Homo sapiens: one gene and its partner. The protein of the gene in region 1 purifies or fractionates together with the protein of each later gene. This does not show direct contact. Each region holds a gene or a part of one and is shown on either strand. Other genes may lie near its edges.

Region 1 (3,613 bases):
GTATTCTTGGTGTCTGTCCATCAAGAAAGCACATGTGACCAAAAAATCTACTGAGTAAGTAATCCTGTTAAATAGATTTGCATTTGGTGATATTTATTTAGTCTACAGCTAGTGTGACTCCTCCCCCTGTTCCCACAGAAGAGACCATCCCATTGCATTTTAAGACTAAATTTTAAACCCAAAATGTTTGAATTTCTGCTTTGGGATAGCTCAAATGCCAAATTTTTCCTCCTGTGTCCAACCTCACTCTCAGCCCTCAGCCCCCAGCCCCAGGCAGAAATGATGCTCTTGGGTAGCAGCTTAATGGTATTTTAATTTAAAAGTAAATGACGGCACCTCAGGGCTCTTGTGCATGGCTCAGAGATCACAGGGTAGTCTGCAGAAAAATTCCAGCCACCCTGGCCCACAATGTACAAAGAACACTCCATTCACACACTCTACCTGCCAAGGTTGTGGAAGGGGTAGAGACAATGGCTAAGACAGGTTTTGGGTTCTCATTGAATAATAATTTTCCATATTTACTTCATCTGCTATGTCAAGCCTTTAGCCAGAAAGATGGTCTGCCTGCCTATAGCTGGGGGCCTTCTAGCTTTCCATCTATCTGGTGCTGGTGTCTTGTTCTAGAGAAAATTTAACCTAATTCATCAGCAAGATTATGTTGAGCCCCAGTGGTGCCAGGCCATAGCTTTGTGCTGGGTATTTGCGGGTACTTATTTAGAAAGACGTTAAGTGTTTGCTTCTAAGGAGCTCATGGCTTAAGAGCAAGTAGAATATGTGAAGAAATGTGAAGGATGCTTTGCTTGGTTGAGGAGTAAGTTGGTGGTCCCCTGGAGAAAGAGGGAACAGAATTCTGAGGTAAGGGTGCCCCAGTTGGTTGCAGATAGGGTTTCAGCTGAGCTCTGGTTTCATGCCAGTATCCCTGGCACCACACTCAGCCACTTTGTCTATTGCAGGGAAGCTATATGCTGTTGGGGGTTATGATGGAGCTTCCCGCCAGTGTCTGAGCACTGTGGAGCAGTACAACCCAGCGACCAATGAATGGATATACGTGGCGGACATGAGCACCCGCCGCAGTGGCGCAGGTATGGGAGAACCTCGGGGTGCTGGCTGTGTCTGATTTGCTCACAAGTGGGTCCTTAAATTTTTTTGTTTTATTTTAGATTTAGAGGGTACATGTGCAGGTTTGTTACATGGATATATTGCATAATGGTCGAGTTTGGGCTTCTAGTGTACCCATCACGCAAATAGTGACCATTGAACCCAATGGGTAATTTTTCAACTTTCACCCTCCTCCCAGACTTATCCCTTTTGGAATCCCCAGTGTCTATTGTTCTCATCTTTATGTCCATGTATACCCATTATTTAGCCTGTACATATAAGTGAGAACATGCAGTATTTGATTTTTTGTTTCTGGGTTATCTCACATAGGATTATGGCCTCCAGCTCCATCCATGTTGCTGCAAAGGACATGATTTCACTCTTTTTTTGGTTGCATAAGATTCCATGGTGTATACATACTATATTTTCTTTAATCAGCCATTGATGGATACTTAGATTGATTATATGACTTTGTGGTAGTCAGTAGTGCTGCTTTAAACATAATAACTGTACATGTCTTTTTAATATAATGATTTCTTTTCCTTTGCATAGATACCCAGTAGTGGGATTGCTGGGTCAAATGGTAGTTATATTTTGAGTTCTTTGAGAAATCCCCATACTGTTTTTCCATAGAGGTTGTATTAATTTATATTTCCACAACAGTGTATAAGCATACCCTTTTCTCTGCAACCATGCTAAAGTCTTTTTTTTTTTAAACTTTTTTTTTTTTTTTTTTTTTTTTGAGATGAAGTCTCACTCTGTTGCCCAGGCTAGAGTGCAGTGGCGCTATCTCGGCTCACTGCAAGCTCCGCCTCCCGGGTTCCGCCATTCTCCTGCCTCAGCCTCCCGAGTAGCTGGGACTACAGGCACCCACCACCATGCCCGGCAAATTTTTTGTATTTGTAGTAGAGTTGGGGTTTCACCCTGTTAGCCAGGATGGTCTCAATCTCCTGACCTCATGATCCACCTGCCTCGGCCTCTCAAAGTGCTGGGATTGCAGGCATGAGCCACTGCACCCGGCCTTTTTTGACTTTTTAGTAATAGCCATCTGTAAGATGATATCTCACTGTGGTTTTAATCTTCATTTTTCTGATGATTACGATGTTAAGCATTTTTTCATATGATTATTGGCCACACTGGCATGCCTTATTTTGAGAAATGTCTGTATGTATATCCTTTGCCTGCTTTTTAATGGGGTTGTTTTTTCCTTGTTGAGTTGTTGGAGTTCCTTGTATATTCTGAACATTAATCCTTTGTTGGGGGGCATAATTTGCAAATATTTTCTCCCATTCTGTAGGTTGACTGTTTGTTGATTATTTCTTATGTTGTGGAGAAGCTTTTTTTGTTTGTTTAATTAAGTCCCATTTGTCTATTTTTGTTTTTGTTGCACTTTCCGTTTGGCATCTTAGTCATAAATTGTTTGCCTAGGCCAATGCCCAGAAGAGTTTTTTCTAGGTTTTCTTCTAGGACTTTTATAGTTTCAGGTCTTATATTTAAGTCTTTAATCCATCTTCAGTTAATTTTTGTATATGGTAAGAGATAGAGGTCTAGTTTCATTTTTCTGTATGTGGCTAGCCACATACAACACCATTTATTGAATAGAGAGTCTTTTCCCCATTGTTTTATTTTTGTCGACTTTTTTGAAGATCAGCTTGTTATAGGTATGTGGCTTTGTTTCTGGGTTCTCTATTCTGTTCCATTGTTCTCTGTGTCTATTTTTGGTACCAGCACCATGCTGTTTTAGTTACTATAGCCTTGTAATATAATTTGAAGTCAGGTAATGTGATACTTCTGACTTTGTTCTTTTTGGTTAAGATTGGCTTTGGCTATTCGGGCTCTTTTTTGGTTCTGTATAAACTTTAGGATTGTTTTTTCTAATTCTATGAGGAATGATGTTGATAGTTTGATAGGAATTGTGTTGAATCTGTAGATTCCTTCAGGGAATATGGTCATTTTAATGATATTGATTCTTCCAATCCATGAATATGGGATGTTTTTCCAGTTTGTGTAATCTGTGATTTCTTTAATCAGTCATGAGTGGGTATTGGTTCAACAACTTAACATTTTATTTTACCTCCTCCTCCTCCTTTCATTTTGCTGTATATAATCCTACTAGCACCTTTGCAGCTAGACACAGTACTTTATAAGTTAACCTTTCCTGGGGGATCACTAGAGAATGGATGAGATAATACGCTCCTCCTCATCATACCTTATGTTTCTATGAAGGTGTTTATATCTTTTGAAAGTTAAGGCTTACTATGTGCCAGGCACTGTCCTAACAAGTACTTTTTATGCCTCAATCCATTTAATCCTCACTGCAGCCCTACGAGGTGGATACAATATGAATTGCACTTATCAGATTTAGAAAGGAGGTCTGCCAGTGGTTGAGTAATTTGCCCAAGGTCATATAATTAGTAATGCTGACTCCAGAGTTAGCTTTTTAAATCCCTAAATTATCAGTCTTATTCCTCTGAAGTAGTAGGACAAGTCTTCAGTTGACAAAGCTGAGCTTGCC
Region 2 (3,613 bases), on another chromosome or scaffold:
GCATTAAATCAAGCTATTACAAAAAACAGGTATGTTTTGTTTTCAAACATCCAATTTTAGATATTTATATTACTCACTTACTACATCCTTCCATATGAAATTAATTGAATTTAGGTAGACAACAAAAGGACTAGGAAAGGCTTAAAGTTTACCCATAAATTTCATAGCTAGCACAGAAAAACACCAGCATCTTCTAAAACAATTTAAATAGATCAAATCTGAGATAAACTAAAAAAAACCCTAATAAATCAGAATACACTGACCAACTCCTTCTCACAAAAACATCTCTATGACCCCCTTTTTTCATCCCTTTTTGTCATTATCATACTTCCCTCAATCCCTCAAATTGTTCAAAATTGTTCATTTGTTAAAAATAGCCTCAGTAGCATAAAATTCCAGTAGAAAAAAAGAAAATACAATGTAATATATATTATATTTTTGTAATGTACATTAAGATTTTTCCTAACTTCATATAGATAATTCACAAATCAGATTGACGAAAACATAAAAAGATAAATTGGACTATATCTGCCCACAAAAACAGCATTGTCTAAAATACCTTGTTTAACAGCATAAGATAAAGCTCATACTTTTTATTACAACACGGAGATTTATACTACCATCTTTTATAAATTTACAAATCTTCTCTAAAAGCAATCTACCACATATTTTTCCTAAATGTTGATAATTTTCTGTTGTTACTTACTTTCTGTTGTTTCTCCTTCAAGGCTAATTGGCTCTTTAGCCGTTCTACTAGATTTCTCATTGTAGTTGTTGGAGCTCTTGAATTTGCTTCTTTTTGAGCCTGAAGTTCAGATTTTAAACACTGTGACTCCTTTTGTGACTGGTCCAGAAGATACTTTAAATCCTCTACTTCCGCTTTTACTTTTTTCACTTCATCTTCATGGTTTTCTTGAAGCCTGATGTAAATAAACATATGTGTGTGTGTGTTTTTTAATTTTTAATTTTTTTGAGACCCAGTCTCACTCTGTCACCCAGGCTGGAGTGCAGCAGCGCAATCTCGGCTGACTGCAACCTCTGCCTCCCAGATTCAAGTGATTTTTTTGCCTCAACTTCCTGAGTAGCTGGGACTACGGGCGTGCACCATCAGGCCCAGCTAATTTTTGTATTTTTAGTAGAGATGGGGTTTCACCATGTTGGCCAGGCCAGTTTGAACGCATGACCTCAGGTGATAAGCCCGCTTTGGCATCCCAAATTGCTGGGATTACAGGTGTGAGCCACCACACCTGGCCAAACATATGTAATTAATAGAGTGGTTGCTGCAATTCATACCTTGATTAATACAAATTTCATATAGAGCAAATGTTCAGTCCTAAGTATCCTTACAATCTAAATCTTGATGCAGGCATCCAAATCCAAAGAAGAATAATTCTTTATTTCATTTAACTACTCTTAGACTTAACAACACATTTTTCTTCTAGTTTCTAATATTTTTGGCAACAATCTTATCAAGTTATTTTGTGACTCTAGTCAAATATACAGAGAATGAACAAAAAGGCATTTTAAATATTATGGCTCTTGTAAAATGTGATTGCTTCCTCTATATGATAGTTTCCTAACCATACTACTAGTAACATTTTTGACTGGATAATTCTTTGTTGGTGGTGGGGCTGCCTTGTGCATGATAGGATGTTTAGCAGCATCTTTTGATTCTACCCACTGGATACCAGTAGCACCCCCGAGCCATGACAATCAAAAATGTCTCCAGACATCGCCAAATGTCCCCAAGAGGGACAATGGTGAAAAACTGATCCTCTATATTTGAGAAATACTGCCCTATATTGACATATTGAAAAGACTAATATAAATTTTCACAGAAATCACATGTATTATTAATTTGTTTATGGTTCAAATTCACTAGCATTATATCTATAACTATATATATGGAAGTGGATACTATCAAAAGATTTAGTTAATTCAATTAATCTTATTGCTTATTCAGCATTAAGTCTGTTAAACTGAATTAATATATTGTTGTGCATATGGACACTGCATCCATACTGAGATTCTGACCAATAAGAGGGAGATAGTGTTAAGACATGAACAAATGTTACTCTTTGAGGCTTCTTGCTTTTGGCAAAACTTAAGTCTAACTTTAAAGAGTCATCATCAAATTGTGAAAATATCAGGATTTACTTAAGAAATCACACAGATCCATAATCTCCTAATACATATCAAAATATGCACACAGAGAACACAAGTATAATTTTGGACTAAAATGACGTAAGGTACACAACAATAACTTCAAGTATTTCCTGTGGCAAAAAAATGTATTATATAAGGTATTTCAAAAGATTATGATTTTCTACACCCACAAATTAGATGCAAAAGCACAAGTAATTTTATACTCCAAAACATGACAGAAATTTACTAGACCAAAAATAACATCTCTTGTACAAAATTTAATAGAGTGAGGAAAAGAGACTGAAAATACACATATGCTGTTGCCAATTTTCTTTCTTTTAGAGAGTAATTTCTTAACAGTGGCAGCTCCTTAGCAAAGCAAAAATAGTGTTAATTCTGTCAGAGGCATTTGAATAAGTGAGTAAAGAATCAAAGACTCTAGCAGGGGCTTGAGAGCTGAAATGGAATTATAAGTCAAGCAGTTCAATTTTCTCATGTTTTTTCAGATAATAAAATTTAGGCCCATAGAGATAATATTATAATGATTAGAAACTACCTAACTATAAACCTATTTTGAGTTTAAAATCTACGTTCTGATAAAGTGGTTGAACAATGTTTAGAATCTCTATTATATGACAGACACTCTTATAAGTGTGTAATCAAAAGTTTTCTATCTGTATGTTATTTTACAGTTTTCAAATTACTTTCATACACGGTATAATTTGACCTTCATATAACCACCCTGAAAGGGCCAGGGTAAGTATTATTATTTCCATTTTAAAGATGATGAGGCTGGGTGCAATGGCTCAGGCCTGTAATCCCAGCACTTTGGGAGGCCGAAGTGGGCGGATCACTTGAGCTCACGAGTTCAAGACCAGCCTGGGCAACATGGAGAAACCTTGTCTCTACAAAAATACAAAAAAACTACCCAGGTGTGGTGGCACCTGCCTGTAGTGCCAGCTACTCTGCAGGCTGAGGTGGGAAGATGGTTTGAGCCTGGAAGGTCAAGGTTGCAGTGAGCTGAGATTATGTCACTGCACTCCAGCCTAGGAAATAGAGCCAGACCTTGTCTCAAAAATAAAAATAAATAAATAAGATGAAACTGAGGCTCAAAGAAGGTAAAAATGAGATTCTGGAAAAGAATTTGTATTGGCTTTTGAGTCAGACTGACTAGTTTCAAATTATGGCTTTCCCATCTACCCCCAGACATGCTATTAAGCATTCCTGAGGCCATATCCTCTCTTTAAAATGGGGAAAATGATAACATATGTAACCAGCAGTCCTGAGGATAAAAATGAGACAATATACTTAAAAGTCTTAGAACAGTGCCTGGCATAGCAAACACTTATGTTTATCTTCATTATATCACTTATCATTTGCCTATTTTTACAATACATTTCGAAGACTTACTGTAATTTGATATTTTCAAATTCTTTTACTTTTAATTCAGTGATTTCTCTTTGTCTCT

What was found.
Region 2: the proteins of KLHL3 (region 1) and CEP290 purify together in Homo sapiens (affinity purification with mass spectrometry; one large-scale study listed by BioGRID and IntAct). This does not show direct contact.

The regions. Positions count from the first base shown.
Region 1 is NC_000005.10:137,631,506-137,635,118, reverse strand, and holds part of KLHL3 (kelch-like protein 3), read left to right. Parts: intron 1-953; coding exon 954-1,082; intron 1,083-3,613. UniProt on the Homo sapiens protein: Substrate-specific adapter of a BCR (BTB-CUL3-RBX1) E3 ubiquitin ligase complex that acts as a regulator of ion transport in the distal nephron.
Region 2 is NC_000012.12:88,079,476-88,083,088, forward strand, and holds part of CEP290 (centrosomal protein of 290 kDa), read right to left. Parts: coding exon 3,556-3,613; intron 2,902-3,555; exon of another isoform or gene 2,838-2,901; intron 921-2,837; coding exon 707-920; intron 1-706. UniProt on the Homo sapiens protein: Involved in early and late steps in cilia formation. Its association with CCP110 is required for inhibition of primary cilia formation by CCP110.